Homo sapiens: one gene and its partners. The protein of the gene in region 2 interacts with the protein of the main gene of each other region in a pairwise test. Each region holds a gene or a part of one and is shown on either strand. Other genes may lie near its edges.

Evidence for each region.
Region 1: the proteins of RCC1 (region 2) and ZNF135 interact in a two-hybrid assay, tested with the Homo sapiens proteins (one large-scale study listed by BioGRID and IntAct).
Region 3: the proteins of RCC1 (region 2) and CSAD interact in a two-hybrid assay, tested with the Homo sapiens proteins (one large-scale study listed by BioGRID and IntAct).
Region 4: the proteins of RCC1 (region 2) and DYNC1I1 interact in a two-hybrid assay, tested with the Homo sapiens proteins (one large-scale study listed by BioGRID and IntAct).
Region 5: the proteins of RCC1 (region 2) and HOXD8 interact in a two-hybrid assay, tested with the Homo sapiens proteins (one large-scale study listed by BioGRID and IntAct).

What each region holds. Positions count from the first base shown.
Region 1 is NC_000019.10:58,065,656-58,069,350, forward strand, and holds part of ZNF135 (zinc finger protein 135), read left to right. Parts: intron 1-1,049; coding exon of another isoform or gene 1,050-1,085; coding exon 1,086-2,806; 3' UTR 2,807-3,695. UniProt on the Homo sapiens protein: Plays a role in the regulation of cell morphology and cytoskeletal organization. May be involved in transcriptional regulation.
Region 2 is NC_000001.11:28,523,005-28,526,699, reverse strand, and holds part of RCC1 (regulator of chromosome condensation), read right to left. Parts: intron 343-3,695; exon of another isoform or gene 87-342; intron 1-86. UniProt on the Homo sapiens protein: Guanine-nucleotide releasing factor that promotes the exchange of Ran-bound GDP by GTP, and thereby plays an important role in RAN-mediated functions in nuclear import and mitosis.
Region 3 is NC_000012.12:53,157,121-53,160,697, reverse strand, and holds the end of CSAD (cysteine sulfinic acid decarboxylase), read left to right. Parts: intron 1-378; coding exon 379-578; intron 579-759; coding exon 760-811; intron 812-985; coding exon 986-1,075; intron 1,076-2,013; coding exon 2,014-2,187; 3' UTR 2,188-3,035; downstream 3,036-3,577. UniProt on the Homo sapiens protein: Catalyzes the decarboxylation of L-aspartate, 3-sulfino-L-alanine (cysteine sulfinic acid), and L-cysteate to beta-alanine, hypotaurine and taurine, respectively. The preferred substrate is 3-sulfino-L-alanine.
Region 4 is NC_000007.14:96,030,956-96,034,650, reverse strand, and holds part of DYNC1I1 (cytoplasmic dynein 1 intermediate chain 1), read right to left. Parts: intron 1,985-3,695; coding exon 1,871-1,984; intron 1,570-1,870; exon of another isoform or gene 1,492-1,569; intron 1-1,491. UniProt on the Homo sapiens protein: Acts as one of several non-catalytic accessory components of the cytoplasmic dynein 1 complex that are thought to be involved in linking dynein to cargos and to adapter proteins that regulate dynein function.
Region 5 is NC_000002.12:176,128,027-176,132,521, forward strand, and holds the start of HOXD8 (homeobox protein Hox-D8), read left to right. Parts: upstream 1-1,678; 5' UTR 1,679-2,340; coding exon 2,341-2,917; intron 2,918-3,290; coding exon 3,291-3,586; 3' UTR 3,587-4,495. UniProt on the Homo sapiens protein: Sequence-specific transcription factor which is part of a developmental regulatory system that provides cells with specific positional identities on the anterior-posterior axis.

The DNA of each region.
Region 1 (3,695 bases), on a different chromosome or scaffold from region 2:
TTACACAGGTCCACCCAGATAATCCAGTGTAATTTCTCTATCTTAATGTTAGCTGATTAGCAACCTTAATTCCTCCCTCCCATGTAATTGGAAACATACAGGTTATAGGGTTAGGATGTGGGCATCTTGGGAAGCCACTATTCTGCCATTCACTCTGGCTTAACTTTTTTTTTTTTAATTGAACTTTTCACTGAAACATAACAATATGGGGAAGGTGCCCACATCACACCTCTAGGCCACTGTGGGGTCAGGGTAGGGGCAGCACACACCCAGGTCATGGCTGTGCAGAGAGGGCTGGGTACCAGGGCAAAAAGAGAGTCCTGCCATGAAGGAGGAGGAGGGAATGCATTTGTTCATTCATTAAGCATGTATATTGAGCTCTTGCTGTGGGCTATAGATACAGTGGTAAGCAAGGTGGACGGAAACCCCTACCCTCAAGGGGTTCCCAGTTAGTGAAATGGACAAAATAAGGCAGACCAAAGCACTCTAATATGCCACGGGTCATTTTTCTTCCTCTTAGTGATGTACATTGCAGCTATTCCTGTTTGTGGGGAGCAGTTAGGTTCCTTTACATCTAGAGTGAGGTGGCACAACAGCATATGCTGTCGGGAAGAAGCTGGGTATCAGCCAACTTTCCCCATGCAGCACGTTTTTCTCTGTTGCCACCTGGCATTGTGGAGGCCACTGTAGCTGGAGCCTGGGTGCCACACTGCTCCTTCCAAGTCCAGTGCCTCTGTGTGTCTGAGTGCTCTCTCCTGGGCATCCGCTCTGCATCCTCCTCTGTGCTCCCCTCACAGACTCCATTCATACTCCTTGTGCCAACTGTTTTTTCCTCCCTCTCCTCTTCCTTTCCTTATTCTGTTCTTTCCTCTTCCTTTCCTTATTCCTTATTTTCCTCTTCCTTATTCTGTGTTTCCCTCTCTTCCTTTCCTGGTTTGCAAAACTATATTTTTAAATGGTCAAAGCCACTTGAACCTTGAACGTTTCAAAATAATTAGTTTTATCCTTCCTCTTCCCATCTCACCACAAACTCTTTTGCCGTGGAACAGAGATTAAGGGACATTTCCAGTTTTTGCTTCTTTCAGACTTGGAAACTAGACCCAAAGTCAAACTGTCAGTTCTAAAGCAAGGCATCTCTGAAGAAATATCCAACAGTGTCATCTTGGTAGAAAGATTCCTGTGGGATGGTCTGTGGTACTGCAGGGGTGAGGACACTGAGGGCCACTGGGAATGGAGTTGTGAGAGTCTAGAGAGCCTGGCAGTGCCGGTGGCCTTCACGCCTGTGAAGACGCCTGTTCTGGAGCAGTGGCAGAGGAATGGGTTTGGGGAAAACATAAGTCTGAACCCTGATCTCCCACATCAACCAATGACTCCTGAAAGACAAAGCCCCCACACATGGGGAACACGTGGAAAAAGGGAGAAGCCAGACCTAAATGTTTTACAGAAAACCTGTGTAAAAGAGAAACCCTACAAATGTCAGGAATGCGGAAAGGCCTTTAGTCACAGCTCAGCACTTATCGAACACCACCGGACGCACACAGGAGAGAGACCTTACGAATGTCACGAATGCTTAAAAGGCTTCCGGAACAGCTCGGCACTTACCAAACACCAGAGAATCCATACTGGGGAGAAACCCTATAAATGCACTCAGTGTGGGAGGACCTTCAACCAAATTGCCCCACTGATCCAGCACCAGAGAACTCACACAGGTGAGAAGCCCTATGAATGCAGCGAATGTGGGAAATCCTTCAGTTTTAGGTCCTCCTTCAGCCAGCACGAGCGAACTCACACAGGCGAGAAGCCCTACGAGTGCAGTGAGTGTGGGAAAGCCTTCCGGCAAAGCATCCACCTCACCCAGCATCTGCGAATCCACACTGGGGAGAAACCCTATCAGTGTGGTGAGTGTGGCAAGGCCTTCAGCCACAGCTCATCCTTGACCAAACACCAGCGAATCCACACAGGGGAGAAGCCCTACGAGTGCCATGAGTGTGGAAAAGCCTTCACCCAGATCACACCACTGATTCAGCACCAGAGGACCCACACAGGAGAAAAGCCCTATGAGTGTGGTGAGTGTGGGAAAGCCTTCAGTCAGAGCACACTCCTGACCGAGCATCGGAGGATTCACACAGGAGAGAAGCCCTATGGATGCAACGAGTGTGGGAAAACCTTCAGCCACAGCTCCTCACTCAGCCAGCATGAGCGGACACACACAGGAGAGAAGCCCTATGAGTGCAGTCAGTGTGGGAAGGCCTTCCGGCAGAGCACACACCTCACCCAACACCAGCGAATCCACACAGGGGAGAAGCCCTATGAATGCAATGACTGCGGCAAGGCATTCAGTCACAGCTCGTCCCTCACCAAACATCAGCGAATCCACACTGGGGAGAAGCCCTACGAATGCAACCAGTGTGGCAGAGCCTTCAGCCAGCTTGCTCCCCTCATTCAGCATCAGAGGATCCACACAGGAGAGAAACCCTATGAATGTAACCAGTGTGGCAGAGCCTTCAGCCAGAGCTCCCTTCTCATCGAACACCAGAGGATTCACACCAAGGAAAAGCCGTATGGGTGCAATGAGTGTGGGAAATCCTTCAGCCACAGCTCCTCGCTCAGCCAGCACGAAAGGACGCACACTGGGGAAAAGCCCTATGAGTGTCACGATTGCGGAAAGTCCTTTAGGCAGAGCACCCACCTCACTCAGCACCGGAGGATCCACACAGGAGAGAAGCCATATGCATGCAGGGACTGTGGAAAGGCCTTTACCCACAGCTCCTCCCTTACCAAGCACCAGAGAACTCACACTGGATAAACCCACTCCACATGTGCTGGGGACATAGGAAGACCTTAAGCCATAGCTCATCCCTTTCTAGATTTGACCCAATCATACACATGAGAAACGTACATTCATACACAAGCCTTTTCACACAGCACTCCCCTCAGACACCCTCAGAGAGTTCACACTGATGGGAAATGACCATGGGACCACCAAGCTCTAGGTCATCCATCTCTGCATCCAAATAGTAGGGAAACGTGGAGATAATCAACACTCAGGACCTTCAGCCTTGAACGCCCATTAGTGCTATGTTATAGAACCTACAAAAAAGAAATGGAACAAATGTAGTGGATCCAGGGAACGCTTTTGTCCAAGGATTCACCGTATTCCAAACCAGAGATGTTCAAATTGGTGAGAAACCCAACAAATGCCTTTCATATATACGAGAACCAAATGAAGTCAGAATTTGCCATTATTGCACATCACATTTTTGGGGGGGAAAGTGCTTATGAATGGTGCAGGTTGACTCTGATATTCATTCCCAAATGACAGTATGGCAGAGTGTTCCAGAAATGAGAGTGGCATCTTTATGGAATCACTGTGGATACTGACTGTCTCAGTAAACAGCTGTCTTGTCTGTGTGTATATTGTTTGATCAGGGTACATGGCAGCCAGTCACAGATTGGAATTACATATGACAAAGTATCAGTGTACTATAAACAGGTTTTTAGTTATCCCTGCATTATTTTTGCAATTAATCTTTATATGCAATGAGATTGAAAAGCTTTGTATGGGAAGACTCAAAATGTAAAGCTGCTTCCGTAGAGTCTCACTGATTCTGAGATGGCTTTTGCTGCTCTGTTCTCCCTCTACATTTCTCTGCAGAACTCGCGTTAGAAACACAGATATTTGTTTTACAAAAAGG
Region 2 (3,695 bases):
GGTCTTGAACTCCTGAACTCAGGTGATCCACCCACCTCAGCCTCCCAAAGTGCTGGGATTACAGGTGTGAGCCACCGCGCCCAGCCCTATCCTTTGGATTTCACCTTTGTGTGTCCTACAGAAATTGTTGCTTCTAGTGACAAAGCTAAGGAATTTCACGATGTGAACTTTGAAGTTGTTGCAGTCTCAGTGGATTCCCACTTTAGCCGTCTTGCCTGGATAAATACACCAAGAAAGAATGGTGCTTTGGGCCACATAAACATCGCACCCTTGTCAGATTTAACTAAGCGAATTTCTCGAGACTTCGGTGTGCTGTTAGAAGGTCCTGGTCTTGCACTAAGAGGTCTCTTCATAATTGACCCCAATGGAGTCATCAAGTACTTGTTTTTGTTTGTTTGTTTGTTTGTTTTTTTGAGACAGCATCTCACTCTCTGTTGCCCAGGCTCAAGTGCAGTGGCACAATCACGGCTCATTGCAGGTTTGACCTCTTGAGCTCAGGTGATCCTCCCACCTCAGCCTCTAGAATAGCTGGGACTACAAGTGCGCATCACAGTGTCCAGCTAATTTTTATATATTTTGTAGAGACAGGGTTTTGCCAAGTTGCCCAGGCTGGTCTAGAACTCCTGGGCTCAAGCGATCTACCCGCCTCAGCCTCCCAAAGTGCTGGGATTACAACAGCTGTGAGCCACCATGCCCGGCCGGAGCCACAGTCTTTAAGGTCATGAAAAACAATCAAGTTGTCTAAGCCTCTACCTAATGTTACGAAGGGAAGGAGAACTCCAAGAGCCCTTCTCGGTCTCAGCTCTGGGCCTAACCAGCAGCCCCCTCATTCCTTCCTTCTAGTGGTTCCCGAGAACCTCGCCTCTCTAGCTCTCCCCTCCATGGTATATGGACACAAGGCCAGGCACTTTTCTGCTGATTATCCTGGGGAAGGAGAACTAAATACTAAAGATGGGAAAGTAACCAAAGGTCTAGAATCCTGATAAGCCTTTGCAGGCTGAGCTTCTGCAGGTTGTCACTGGCCCAGTTCTGACTGATGAGGTGGCAGTTCTGAACTTCACCCAACTTTTATTCTCCCAGGGCTGAGAATCCTCCCACCTGTCTTTTGAGACCCCTTGTCCCACACTAAAAAGTGCACATTCTTTGGGATTAGAGGGAACTGGGTTCACCTTCCAGAGCTTGTGGCTGGCCAGTTGCCTTAACCTCTCTGAACTGTATCCTCATCTATAAAAGGGGATGCAATGACTACTTCTCAGGGCTGTCATCAAGACTGAATGAAATGGTTGTAAATCCACAAATATTTATAGTGCTTTACTACTAAGGGAGGAGACCACCCCTCATATTGTCTTATGCCCAATTTCTGCCTCCAAAGAAGTAAAAACTAAAAGGCAGAAATGAAATCCACAGGCAGACAGCCTGGCGCCGCGACCTGTGTCTGGTTAAAGATCGACCCCTGACCTAACCGGTTATGTTATCTATAGATTCCAGACATCGTATGGAAAAGCACTGTGAAAATCCCTGTCCTGTTCTGTTCCGTTCTGATAACCAGTGCATGCAGCCCCCAGTCACATATCCCCTGCTTGCTCAATCAATCACGACCTCTTCATGCAGACCCCCTTAGAGTTGTAAGCCCTTAAAAGGGACAGGAACTGCTCACTCGGGGAGCTCAGTTTTTGGAGACGTGAATCTTGCCAAAGCTCCCAGCTGAATAAAGCCCTTCCTTCTTTAACTGGGTGTCTGGGGGGTTTTGTCTGCGGCTTATCCTGCTACACTACTGCTTGGCTTTGGGTGAGGAGGTGTAGCAAGGATAAAGGAGACTAACCCTTTTTTACTCTCATAATTTGTTCATCCTTTGTATTTATTTTTGAGACAGGGTCCTGCCCAGACTTGAGTGCAGTGGCATGGTCATGGCTCACTGCAGCCTCAACCACCCGGGCTTGAGCCATCCTGGATAGCTGGGACTACAGGTGTGCACCACCACGCCCGGCTAATTTTTGTATATTTTGCAGAAACAACGTCTTGCCATGTTGCCCAGGCTGGTCCCGAACTCCTGGGCTCAAGCGATTCTCTAGCCTTGGACTCCCAAAGTGCTGGGATTATAGGTGTAAGCCACCATGCCTGGCCTTTTATTTTATTTTTTTAAGAGAGGGGGTCTCACTCTGTCACCTAGGCTGGAGTGCAGTGGTGCAATTAGCTTATTGCAGCCTCGAACTCATGGACTCAAGCGATCTTCCCACCTCAGCTTCCCAAGAGCCTGGGATCATGGGCACGTGCCACAGCACTTGGCTTGATTTGTTCATCCTAAAAAAGTCCAGAGGATTCTTGGCAGGCCTGCCCAAGATCCCCCTATGAGCTTGGCCAAACACAAAGACTCCCAGGCTTGGGCTTAAATGACCAGGTAGATGGTAGACTTCCATGTAGTGAGATAGAGAACACTGTTGAACAAACAGGAGAGAAGAGACGTGAAGCTCCATGTTGCTAGGTGTTTTCATTCAATCTGAAGTGCTTGGGAGCCATCCCAGAAAGGATGTCAGGCAGGCAAAGTTAGATGGGGTAGGGATGTGGGATATAAGAGGCATCTTTGTGGCCGGGCACGGTGGCTCACGCCTGTAATCCCAGCAGATTGGGAGGCCAAGGCGGGTGGATCACCTGAGGTCAGGAGTTCGAGACCAGCCTGACCAACGTGGAGGAACCCCATCTCTACTAAAAATACAAAATTAGCCAGGCGTGGTGACGCGTGCTGTAATCCCAGCTACTCGGGAGGCTGAGGCAGGAGAATCGCTTGAACCCAGGAAGTGGAGGTTGTGGTAAGCCGAGTTTGCACCATTGCACTCCAGCCTGGGCAACAAGAGTGAAACTCTGTCCCTCCACCAAAAAAAGAGGCACCCTTGTTTTAGATAGACAGCTGTATGCCAAGGCAAACATCTCATCAGTTCATCAGAATAATCTGTAGCAGTCTGCTGTGCCTGGGAGGGAGACTGTATTAGCATGAAAAGTACTCACAATAAGAAGTCAGGAGAAAAAGCAGGAAACAATTATGTCAGCACAGTTGGTGCTGATGGCTGGGCTGCCATGAGCACAGCCCGGAATGGAGTCAGACACATAAGGGCTATATGAAGTGTTGGTGTCATGGGGCATTAACCAAAAAATCTGTTATCATGGATGGAACAAACCCAGTCAACATCTCCTTAGTTGTGTTTGGCTAATATTCTGGAGCGTTTCACTACAAGCTGGCCACAATGATCCCACTCTACAGAGAAGAAAACTGAGGCTCAGAAAGGTGAAGTATCTCACTCAAGATTGGAAGAGAAGGCCAAGATCTGAACCAAGTTAGTCAGACTCCAGAGCTGGCGTCCTTGAGTGTTATTAGAAATTTCTTCTGGCCGGGCGCGGTGGCTCACGCCTGTAATCCCAGCACTTTGGGAGGCCGAGGCGGGCGGATCATGAGGTCAGGAGATCGAGACCACGGTGAAACCCCGTCTCTACTAAAAATACAAAAAATTAGACAGGCGTGGTGGCGGGCGCTTGTAGTCCTAGCTACTCGGGAGGCTGAGGCAGGAAAATGGCGTGAACCCGGGAGGCAGAGCTTGCAGTGAGTCGAGATCACGCCACTGCACTCCAGCCTGGGTGACAGAGCAAGACTCCGTCTCAAAAAAAAAAAAAAAAAAAAAAGAAATTTCTTCTGCCTCCTTCCT
Region 3 (3,577 bases), on a different chromosome or scaffold from region 2:
CTTAGATAAAGTTCAGGCCTTTCTCTATTCTCTTTACCATCCCTTCTGAAGCTGCATCTCAGCTACCACCCTAACCTGTATTAGGCTCCTTCACTCCCCCAGTGGCCTCTCTTAAAAGAAAAGTTTCCAGCTTGAAGTTGGAGTCAGAGGTATCCTGGAGTTTCTAGCTTGAGGTTGCCATCAGAGTTTGGGAAGAACCCTGGGTATTGGGAGGAAACCCAAAGAAAGGTGTTGGAGCCAGCAGGCAGCCGTCCCAGCAGTGCCATCTGGCTCCAGGGAAAGAAGAGGGTATCCTGAGCTAAGACCCCCACAGTGCAGCCCTGGAGGAAAGCCTCGGTGGAGAGGGTAGGGTCTGACAATCTCCTCACCCCCACACAGAACCTGCTCAAGCGCTGCCATGGGTCCCAGGCCAGCTACCTTTTCCAGCAGGACAAGTTCTACGATGTGGCTCTGGACACGGGAGACAAGGTGGTGCAGTGTGGCCGCCGTGTGGACTGTCTGAAGCTGTGGCTCATGTGGAAGGCACAGGGCGATCAAGGGCTGGAGCGGCGCATCGACCAGGCCTTTGTCCTTGCCCGGTAGGCGGGAGGAGGTGGGGGGTCGTCCCTGTTCCCCTCTCCTGGGTCCATGCCCCTCCCTCTTTCCTGCTCCCGGGATTACTTTTCTCTCGGTCTCTCTGTGGCTCATTCTACGTGGGCCTCTTCTGTCTGGATCTCTGCTTTTCCTCCCCGCCTATGGTTTCTCACTCTCTGTTCACAGGTACCTGGTGGAGGAAATGAAGAAGCGGGAAGGGTTTGAGCTAGTCATGGAGGTAGGACCCCTTTCTATTTTGTGGCCCCTGCCCCAGCCTAGCTCTTTTGCAGCCCCCAAGCCCCAACTAAAGCCCTAGTGGAGGGAAAAGGGCAGGGAGAGGGGAAAGGGGCAGGGAGAGGGAAAACGGTCCCCCTTTCTCAGCTCACACCTTCCTCTTTCTCATTCCTCTCAGCCTGAGTTTGTCAATGTGTGTTTCTGGTTCGTACCCCCCAGCCTGCGAGGGAAGCAGGAGAGTCCAGATTACCACGAAAGGCTGTCAAAGGTAGGCGTGCTGTGCTGCTCTCTTTACCCGTTAGGGAGCTGATGCAACTGATGCGCTTCTGCCCCCTGTTGGCTGGGAGTGGCATGGCAGGTCTCCTTGCTGGTCTCTTGCTCTGAGGCGTGGATGCTCTCTTTTCGGTAGGGGTGGGGATGGGGAGGAAGGTATGTTTCTGGGAAGTAAGAAGCAGCGACGTGTGTTACAGGAGAAGTCAGAGAAGTCACCAGTGTGTAGTACACAGAGCCTTGTGCTGGCAATTGGGCTGGGAACTCAGGCCCAGGACAGATATGAGGCAGAATGATCATGGAAAAGCCTTATTACCCGTGCTAGGGACACAGCAACCCGAGAAAGCCAGTCTAGAAGTGCCATCTGGAGGCGAGGAGCTGTGTTATATCCTGGTCCCTAAAGATAGAGTGGTACTAGGTGCTGCAGATGATCTGAAAGGACAAATGTTCTTGCCCTTATGGAGTTGTTATTATAAGGCAAGAGTTACCTACTTGGAAGCAATGTGTTCAAGGCAGTGTTGTAAATTACTTGCTAGATCACAGGGCACAGATTAATATTATCAAAAATATTACAGGAATTAAGAGAGGGGAGAAGAAGGTGTTGACTAAGGCTTAGATGACCAAGGCTTGAAGTTAGACTAAAGCAGTGTTAGGAATCAAGAGAAAGTCAAGATTTGGCAGAAAATGTCCCACAGGACAGATTTCTTGGAGACAGGAGAAATGGGGAGAAAAGCAGAAGATAGCGAAGGCCAAGCAGGTTAGATATGACAGAAAGGTAAACTGAGGCCAAGGTCAAGGTCTGAGCAAGGTGTGCTACCCCCAGAAGGTGGCTGGGTGGGAAGGAAAAGCACCTCTGGAAGCCTGGCAGGACAAGAAGCCAGCCTACCTGTCAGCCGACCCAGGCTGCAGCTGGAATCTCTCTCCACCCTTCCACAGGTGGCCCCCGTGCTCAAGGAGCGCATGGTGAAGGAGGGCTCCATGATGATTGGCTACCAGCCCCACGGGACCCGGGGCAACTTCTTCCGTGTGGTTGTGGCCAACTCTGCACTGACCTGTGCTGATATGGACTTCCTCCTCAACGAGCTGGAGCGGCTAGGCCAGGACCTGTGAGCCTTCTCTGTCTTGCTGCCGGCCTTGATACCACCCCTCACCCGCAGAGTCACTGCATTCCCTCCCAGCCTTTGAGGCCGGGTGCAGTGGCTCACGCCTGTAATCCCAGCACTTTGGGAGGCCGAGGCGGGTGGATCACTTGAGGTCAGGAGTTCGAGACCAGCCTGGCCAATAAGGTGAAACCCTGTCTCTACTAAAAATACAAAAATTAGCCGAGCATGGTGGCCTGTGCCTGTAAACCCAGCTACTCAGGAGGTTGGGGCAGAATTGCTTGAACCCAGGGGGCAGAGGTTGCAGTGAGCCGAGATTGCACCCCTGCACTCCAGGCTGGGCAACAGTACGAGACTCTGTTCCAAAAAAAATAAAAAAGAACAGCCTTTTTAGGCCACAGTGACCTGCGCAATGTTTATATGCTTTGACCTACTAACTTTCTCCTAACTAAATATTTGATTTTAGGAGAGTGTTTAAATAAATTACAGTATGTCTATATGATGAAATGTTATTTTGCCATTAAAATTTTGTTTACAAAGATAATTTTTATTGACATAAAAATAACTTTAATGTAATTTATGTTGAAAAAGCTGAATACAAGTCTTTATATAGAGTAATATTTGAGCTGTGTTCAAAAATACATAGGAAAAGACTGATAAAATGAAATATGGCAAAATGTTAATAGTTTTCCCTGGAATAGGATAATAGGCAATTTTAAAACAGACTCCTTTAAAAAAACAAACAAACAAAAAAAACATAGACTTCTTTATATCTTTTGAGCTCCCTCCCTTTTATTATGTAATGAATATGTGTTGCTTTTGTAATAGGAAAATAATAAAGTTAAAATTTCAACTGCATTCTTTTGGTATGTTTTTAAAATTTATTAACATTCAACCGGCCGAGCACAGTGGCTCACGCCTGTAATCCCAGCACTTTGGGAGGCCGAGGCGGGTGGATCACCTGAGGTCAGGAGTTCGAGACCAGCCTGGCCAACATGGTGAAACTCCGTCTCTACTAAAAATACAAAAATTAGCCAGGCATGATGGCTGGCGCCTGTAATCCCAGCTACTCGGAAGGTTAAGGTGGGAGAATCGCTTGAACCCAGGAAGCGGAGCTTGCAGTGAGCTGAGATCACGCCATCGCACCTTAGCCTGGGCGACAGAGCGAGACTCTGTCTCAAAAAACGAAGCAAAACAAAACATTCAATCAAATAATGAGGATCTTTATTTTTTTTTTTAAACAAGATGTGGCCAGGTGTGGTGGCTCATGCCTATAATCCTAGCACTTTGTGAGGCTGATGTGGGAGAATCGCTTGAGTCTGGGAGTTCAAGACCAGCCTGGGCAACATAGCAAGACCCCATCTCTAAAAAAAGAAAAATTTTTTAAAATTAGCCAGACA
Region 4 (3,695 bases), on a different chromosome or scaffold from region 2:
GGATGCTGTGACTATGTCATACAGATAACTGGATCATCCAATGATCTGCTTCATCACTAAAATTAGCAGCAAGGAAGGAAAAGTCCCTTTACCCATTTGGGAGAGAGAAAGACCAGGCCAACTGTTGGATGCCCCTATTCCTCCCTGCCATCCATGGAAGCCATGTCACGAAATCCTCCATCTTTGTATAGACACAGGAGTCTGTGAGCATGCTAAAACTAATACAAACGGACTTAGAGCCACCATATTACTGGTTTTAACCTAAATAAATATGTGTAATGAGCAAAATGGGCAATTAAAAATTCCTAAATAGTGGGCTTGCTCTTATGTCTGTTTATAATCTTCAGGCTTTTAAAAGAAAACAAAACATTGCTGAGAATTTTAAGACAAAGCCATAAAATACCAATCCCTCCAGCCCTCTATAATGTTAAAGATCAGCGAAAATAGTGGAACTTCAATTGTAAGCAGCTTATTAGCACTCTCTCCTTTTTCTCCCTAAAATTATTTTAAAAAAACGTAGTATTCTTTACATCCGTATTTTGTGGAGGCTTAAAGGAGGTTGGTTCTTCACAGTTTCCATATTTCCTTTTGTGTGTGTGCATGTGTGTGTGTATAATAATAATAATAATTATTTTTTTCAAGAGACAAAGTCTCACTCCGTCACCCAGACTGGAGTGCAGTGGTGTGATAATAGTTCACTGCAACCTCGAACTCCTGGGCTTAAGCAATCCTCCTGCCTGAGCCTCCCAAGGAACATGGACTACAGACATGTGCTAGCACACCCAGCTAACTTTTTAAGTTTTAGTAGAAAAAGGGTCTTGCTCTGTTGCCTAGGCTGGTCTTGAACTCCTAGGCTTAAATGATTCTCTCACCTCGGCCTCCCAAAGTGCTGGGATTACAAGTGTGAGCCACCGTGCCCTGTCTCCTTATGTACATTTTGAAACTTTAACTTCTTCTAAAATTGTGTGAGAGACATTCTAGGGTTTTTATCCTGGGAAAGAATATGGGAATGTTAACATTGAGAATTATCTCCTAGATATTGTTTTGCAGTTTTCTCCATGTTTCCTTACATTTTTGTCAAAGTCTATAACAATGACTTCTCTGTTGTTTTTGGTTGGAGGATAGTGAATACTGTTTTTTCACACAAAGAAATATGGAAAAAGCGTGTGTGTATGTGTTCATGTGTGTATGCGCATGTCTTGTGTGTTTGTCTACATATGCATATCTTGCAAGTTGCATTTAGTTGTCTCCCTTTGACAGCCTCTCCCACTTCTATTCCTTTGTTTGGTCCCCACTGTTGCAATCAGTATTGGTTTGCAGACTTTGGAACTTTTTCATTTTTGACTTCTCATTTACTGAGCAAGGAATGACAGGAGCCATACTAAAAAACATTCCAGAGGGGAAAACAGATGGTTTCTTCATACACACAGGCTGTTGTCTAGGCTACGGATACAAGCAAGGGCTTGGATTTCTGTTTTGCTGGGTTACCTTCCCTCCAATGCAAGTACCCATAAGGGATTGCTCTGCTGAGCTCCAACCTCGTCTGCATCTGTTCAACAATGCTGTAGGGTAAGTGCAATTCATACCATAGGCAACTTCCATAATTACTATGATTTAGAATGGATTATTTCATTTTCACTTGAAACTGACCTAAGGATTAATGTATTACAATAATTACATGATTTGTGGTAAAGGAAATGGGTTTTGGCTTCAAGAGAAGATTGCTGAAAGCAGGCCCCACTCTTTCAAGTGCATCCATTTGTTTTAGCTCCTCTAGGATGTGAGGGTTTGGCTTTTAGGAACTATGTTCCATTAAGTAGGTATCTCTTTTAACCAGGATGGTGTTATGTGTAGGGAAAAACAAACCCACCTGTGGAGTTGAGAGCATGTCCAGGCTCCAGGAACACATTTTGCCATCAGTGGAGACAGTGATGAGGTTATGAGCATTCTGGGTCCCAACAACATTTACACAGTACACGGGATGCTGCAAAAACATAAACAAAGAGGATCAGAGACAGATCCAAGAGGAAATGCTTACATTTGAGTGTCAAACACATTACTCTAAAACAAGGATTAAAGAGTAACATAATCCTACTATAATACAAGCGTCAGGTCATTTGCCGCTTTTGATTTGAACCTGATTTCTTTCTAAAAGCTCTGGCAGCAACACATAATAGTGGAAATACTTATAAAGCTTCACCTTGCTCAGTCAGAATGCAATGCAGTGGAACAGAAGGACGCTAGAACAAATGAGGTTTGATGGGGCAGAGGCAATGCAGGGAGGTGAATTTGAACTACTTGAATAAGTCTCCACCGCATAGTTTGGCTTCTAAGCTCAACAAGAGTGATGGAAAAAGACAGTCTTCAAAAGGGTAGAACTACTGACTTTTGGAAGGAATACATGTTACTAAATCTGGAGTTTAATGCATTATAGTCACAATGCCAAACATTTGTTAACATTCTTTATAAAAAGTGGTTAATATTCATAACCATTTTAATCTGGGGGAGAGATACTAGTGGTGAGATTATTGGCACAATGTACCTGGTGAGATAAAATTAGGTTCTTCTATGTTACTGCAAAATCTAGGATAATAATATATTTATTTTTCAAAATACCGTTTGCAGTAGTATAGAGGCTTAGATTTGGCCAGGGCATTGAGAAAGGTCATTTATACATCCCAGGAACCATACACAAGATGTTGTAACCCTCTGTCATACTCTAGTGGGTTATCCCACTCTGCAGAATTCTAAACGGTAGGCTAAAATCATTTGCAGCTGTGTATTAAACACAAAATGGAAGGTTACTATGAGCAGAACCTACAGCAATTTGGGTTAGATTTCAGGCAGTTCAGCCACCAGTGGCCAAACCACACTTACTTGGTGCTTCTTTGTGCAAATAGCTGACAGTATCAGTCTTACCCTTGGTGAGTTACTGTCCATAATACCTAGCCACAACTACAATGAAACAATATTTAATATTGGAAAGTTGCTATTGTATAAAGGATGGTTCCCAAACTATTATTATCATATAAACTGCTGGTCAGAAGGAGTGGTAATAATCATCTAATGTAGCTACTCATCTGCCTCAACCAAGAGGTGGTCCAAACTCTGCTTAAACACCTTCCTTAAAGGGCAGCCAGTTTTCGTAGTATCCTGGGGGAGTTTTTTCTTCCACTAATGGGGATAAAGAAAGTTCAAGGAGATACTTCCAGTGCAGTGCCCTGTGGGACCAAACCAAACTAATCAAGTCAAAACAGTACAGCTTTTTGAATATTTATAGATAGTTGTTCCCTGTTACTCCTCTCCCTGCCAAATCTTTTCTTACCCAGACTGTCACTAATTCCTTCATCTGTTCCTTGGGTACCTGGTTTTCAAAACCTTTCCTATCCTGGTGAATCTCTTTTGAAAATGCTGTATTTTGTCTGATTCCTCTTCCAGTGAGGTTCTGAGAATAAAACAGAACTGTCTACCTATATTCTGACCAGCAGAATATAGAAACCTGGGTAGCATTGAATTATCACTTCTCATGTGATAAAAAATATGCCTGCATTTAATGCATGCTAAGATTACATCTGCTTTTTTGACAATTATATCACCTCTTTCCCCCGTGCTGATGGACAGTCAGCTAAGTCCCTATGTCTTTCACACCATGTCCCTACTGAAACTTCCAAATGAGTCAGCCTTAGTGGATCTGC
Region 5 (4,495 bases), on a different chromosome or scaffold from region 2:
ACCACCCCAAGTCTGCACTCCTTACTAATTTAAAAATTAAATAAAGCATGCCTCTGTCATCTCCAGATTCATTAACGATTCCTTTACCTTTCAGTCATTCCCAGTAGAAATAATTGAGTCGGACATTATCACCTTGCTATGTCTGTCCATCTCGATCTCATTTTCTCCATTTGTAAAAATGATATTTCAGTCCACCCGGACACAAGTCAGGATCGCGCTCGCAGGCTGGGCCAACCCACAAGGAGCTAGGGGTAGCTGAAATCGCTCGCCAGCCTGCAGCATCTCTGAGGCCGTCTGGGGTTTTCGGAAATTTGCATTTGGTGTGGAAAGCCGGCGTGGTGCGTTTAGCTTGAGCAGGGGCGCCTTGGAGGTCTATTTCCAAGGCTGTGGGCCTGGCGCCCTCACGACATTGTACCTATCCCGAAGGAAACGGGGCTCAGTCACCCAAAGAGCCCACGAGAAAGGCCGAGCAGGAGAGGGGAAAACACACACACACAACAGAGAACCATTGCATTTATTGGACATTGAAACGGGAGCAGAGAGGGAAAGGAAGTGTGTGGGGAGGCGGTTGGTAGGGTAAAGCCAGACAGCTTTGGAGAGAGCTGCTAAAATCGGGAATATTTTGTCGATTCACACTCGACTGGGCCACATGACTCGGGCAACTTTTCTTCATCTCTGCTCACAAACTAGGCTGAGCCTTCTCTTTCTCTGCTTTGGGAAAAATTCGTAACTTTGAGGCCTGCGCGCTCTCTCGGCAGTAATTTCACAGGCTTGGCGGAGGAAGTAGGATCGTTAGCATAAGATGGGCCGCCTGCAGCTGCCTGGAACCGGCGCGATCTGAACGCCGGCTGGGAGGCTCCTGGGGGGAACTTGCGGTCGTCTGCCCTCCGCACTCCTCCGGGAACCGCAGCCGGCCCTGGTTCGCTGCGCGCCGGGGCTGAGACCCGGGAGCCGCGTCCTGCCCGAGGAAATGTCACCCTCCCCAGCGCGAGCCCTTTTTCCCGCCTCAGAACGTTTCTGTCCGCTCTTCTATTTACTCTCTCAGCAAGCCTAATGCCCCCTCCTGCATTCTTCAGCCTCCCCCTGCGCCCAGGGCTGACGTCTATCAAGGGTGAAATGATGGAAACTATATTCATGGGCATGATTTCCATTAAATATCAATTAACCTGAGAGCCTCGGCCAGGCTTGCGGTGCGTCAAGGGTAAATGTACATCTCATTTCCACAGGGCCCGCTCGGCTGGAAAAGAAAGGCTTTGATTTGCTTTGATAACGCCAGGATCTGGGGCCACACTCGCGGCTTTTAATTAAACCACTTCGATATGCCCCAACTCAAATGCACGGTCCGGTCCGTCAACACCTCTTGTCCACGTTCCCTGGGCTGCACCCGCGTGTCCAGAGCTGCAAAAGCCACGGGCAACCTCTGCTTTTGCAGCCAGGGGCTCGGGGAGGCAGTCATTTGCTCCGCAGCCTCCTGGGAGTGGCCTCCTTGGCTCCCCCAAGTCTAAGGCTCCGCCGCGGCCCCTCCCTGCCGGCTGCGATCCGCATTCCCGCGGCCCCGGGGCACACGGAGCCCTTGGCAGTGCGTCTTTATGGGCCCCCTTTAAGGCCGGCGGAGGCATCTCGGGCCGGGCGCGGCGCTCCGTCCGTCGGCCGTAGCGACTGAACTGCGCGCGGATCCCTCCGCGGGGCTCCTCGTCCCCGTCACGCTGACTTTCCGTGCAGTGCTGTGGTGCGAAAATGCCTCGCCGGTGCGCACCGGGTCGGCAGCCTCGGCGGCGGGGGCGAGATTGGCGGGAGGGGGGCGCGGGGGGGGCGCGGTAAGAGGTGGCGGCGGGCAGAGGGTGTTTTTTTTCTTTTCCCTCCAGAGCCGGGGTTTGTAAACCGAGGCCAGAGTGTCCCCGTGGGCCGAGCGCACTTTTTTCTTGTCCGGGTGCGCTCAGTCACTGGTGCCTGAGAGGAAACAGTGGAGGCAGCGGGGCAGGTCGCCTGGGGCGTCGGCGATTATATTGCGGCCGAGCCGGGGCGCGCCGGGAAAGGCCGGGAGGGCGGCGGCGCGCGGGGGCTGGGCGAGGCCCCGCGACCCGCGAGGGAGGCGGCGCGAAGCCGAGGCGGCGGGCGCAAGAGCCGGGCATGAGCGCCCAGTAGCTGAGCGCCCGCGGCTGCCTGGCCTCAGAAGCGACGCGCGAGCGCGGGCGGGCGGCAGCAGCGACGTAGCCCGGCGGTCCCGGCGGCGAGAGCAGCCGCCCCACAGGCCCCCGCGGCAGTGCGGCCGAGTCGAGGCTCGCTCTCTGGCTGCTTAGCGCCGCCCGCCCGCCCGGGGCCGCCGCCGCTGACGCCCCAATGAGTTCGTACTTCGTGAACCCGCTGTACTCCAAGTACAAGGCGGCGGCTGCGGCGGCGGCGGCGGCGGGCGAGGCCATCAATCCCACTTACTACGACTGTCACTTCGCGCCCGAGGTCGGCGGCCGTCACGCCGCCGCCGCAGCAGCCCTGCAGCTCTATGGCAACAGCGCCGCCGGCTTCCCGCACGCGCCCCCGCAGGCGCACGCGCACCCGCACCCGTCCCCGCCGCCCTCCGGGACTGGGTGCGGCGGTAGGGAAGGCCGGGGCCAGGAGTACTTCCACCCCGGCGGGGGCAGCCCGGCCGCTGCCTACCAGGCCGCCCCCCCTCCTCCTCCGCATCCTCCGCCTCCGCCGCCACCTCCCCCCTGCGGCGGGATTGCCTGTCACGGGGAGCCCGCGAAGTTTTACGGATACGATAACTTACAGAGACAGCCGATTTTTACGACCCAGCAAGAGGCCGAGCTGGTACAATATCCTGACTGTAAATCGTCCAGTGGTAATATTGGCGAGGACCCAGACCACTTAAATCAGAGCTCGTCTCCTTCTCAAATGTTTCCGTGGATGAGACCACAAGGTTGGGATGCATTTTTTTTTTAAGAAGGGAGAGGGGGAGAAATCTGCTTTCATCTCACGTTCTGGCTTTAAAACTCCCGTTCCCTCTCCCCCTCCTTTTCCTTCTTGTGTAGCCACAGTGGCTCTTATTCATAAAGTAATACAGACTTTTTTTAAAAAAGTAGGAACCATGTAAAGATGATGGGGACAGAATAATTGTGAAGACCTCTCTGCTCCTCTTGCCTGCACACCCTATATATATATATCGGAGCTAAAGAGCTCTGTGTATATTTCACCCCGTAGACCCCCGTTCCACAAACCTCCAGCAACATGCAGAGGTACCATAACATTTTTAAAACTTTTATTCCCCCCCCCTTTTTTTTTGTTTTAATCAGCAGCTCCTGGTAGACGAAGAGGAAGACAAACCTACAGTCGCTTCCAAACTCTAGAGTTGGAAAAGGAATTTCTTTTTAACCCCTATCTGACCAGGAAAAGAAGAATCGAGGTTTCCCACGCCCTAGCCCTCACCGAGAGACAGGTAAAAATCTGGTTCCAGAACAGGAGAATGAAATGGAAAAAGGAAAACAACAAGGACAAATTTCCCGTTTCCCGGCAGGAGGTGAAGGACGGGGAAACGAAAAAGGAAGCCCAAGAGCTGGAGGAAGACAGAGCCGAAGGCCTGACAAATTAACTTCTACCTTTAAAATTTACCACAGACTATTAAAACTAATAATCACCATATGCTGTGGACACCACCTATTTTCTTTGTTGGAAAGGACCTTACCTGTGTTTCAAGCTACCTTCATGTCACTGCTCTTGAGGTTTTCTGTGCTTTGAGAGGGATTTGGGTGTTTAAAAAAGTTTCTAGTATCACATAGAAGCTGTCCTTGAGCTGTCCTATGGAAGGGTAATTTGATACTGACCTTGTAGCTATATTTTTATAATGGTTTTTAATGTCTGAGCTAGTGATTTGCCTCAACAACGTAAACTTCCTAATGATTAGCACTTAATAATTGCATATAAAATGCTTTATTAATTAAACAAGTGCACTTGAACATTTTAATATTTGTGGTGAGTAAATTAAAAGGAGTTTATTAATTAAAAAAAATTATGTCTGCAGAATACTTTATATTATTTGATTACAATGTATTATTTATGGATTTTTTATTCTTTCCTTTATAATGAATAGTTCGGGTGCGTTTTGTTTACTCCTAAAAGGTTTCTTTGCGTATTTTCTAAATGTAATATCTCGGGGAAAATATTAGAAAAGCACGTATTAGCTGAAGAATGTAACTTGTAGTCCAGCTCTGCAGCTTCCTTAAACTTAAGAAAAAGATTGGGCCAGTGACAAGAATTTAAAGACAATGTCCAAGTTGACAATTATTTTTCTATAGTCCATACAAATTAAATAATCTGGCAACTCTGGCAAATCGCCTTGTAAAATGCGTCTCATTTTTTAACTTGCTTTCGTTTTGAACCGCCCTTGTAATCGCCTGAAATCGCTAGTTCTTTATGCGGTGGCTGCCGCTGTGTTCCGTTATTTTCAGTAGGTGTCATATTTATTTGTATTGCCTTTGTTCTGTTCGCCGCTGGTTTTAAA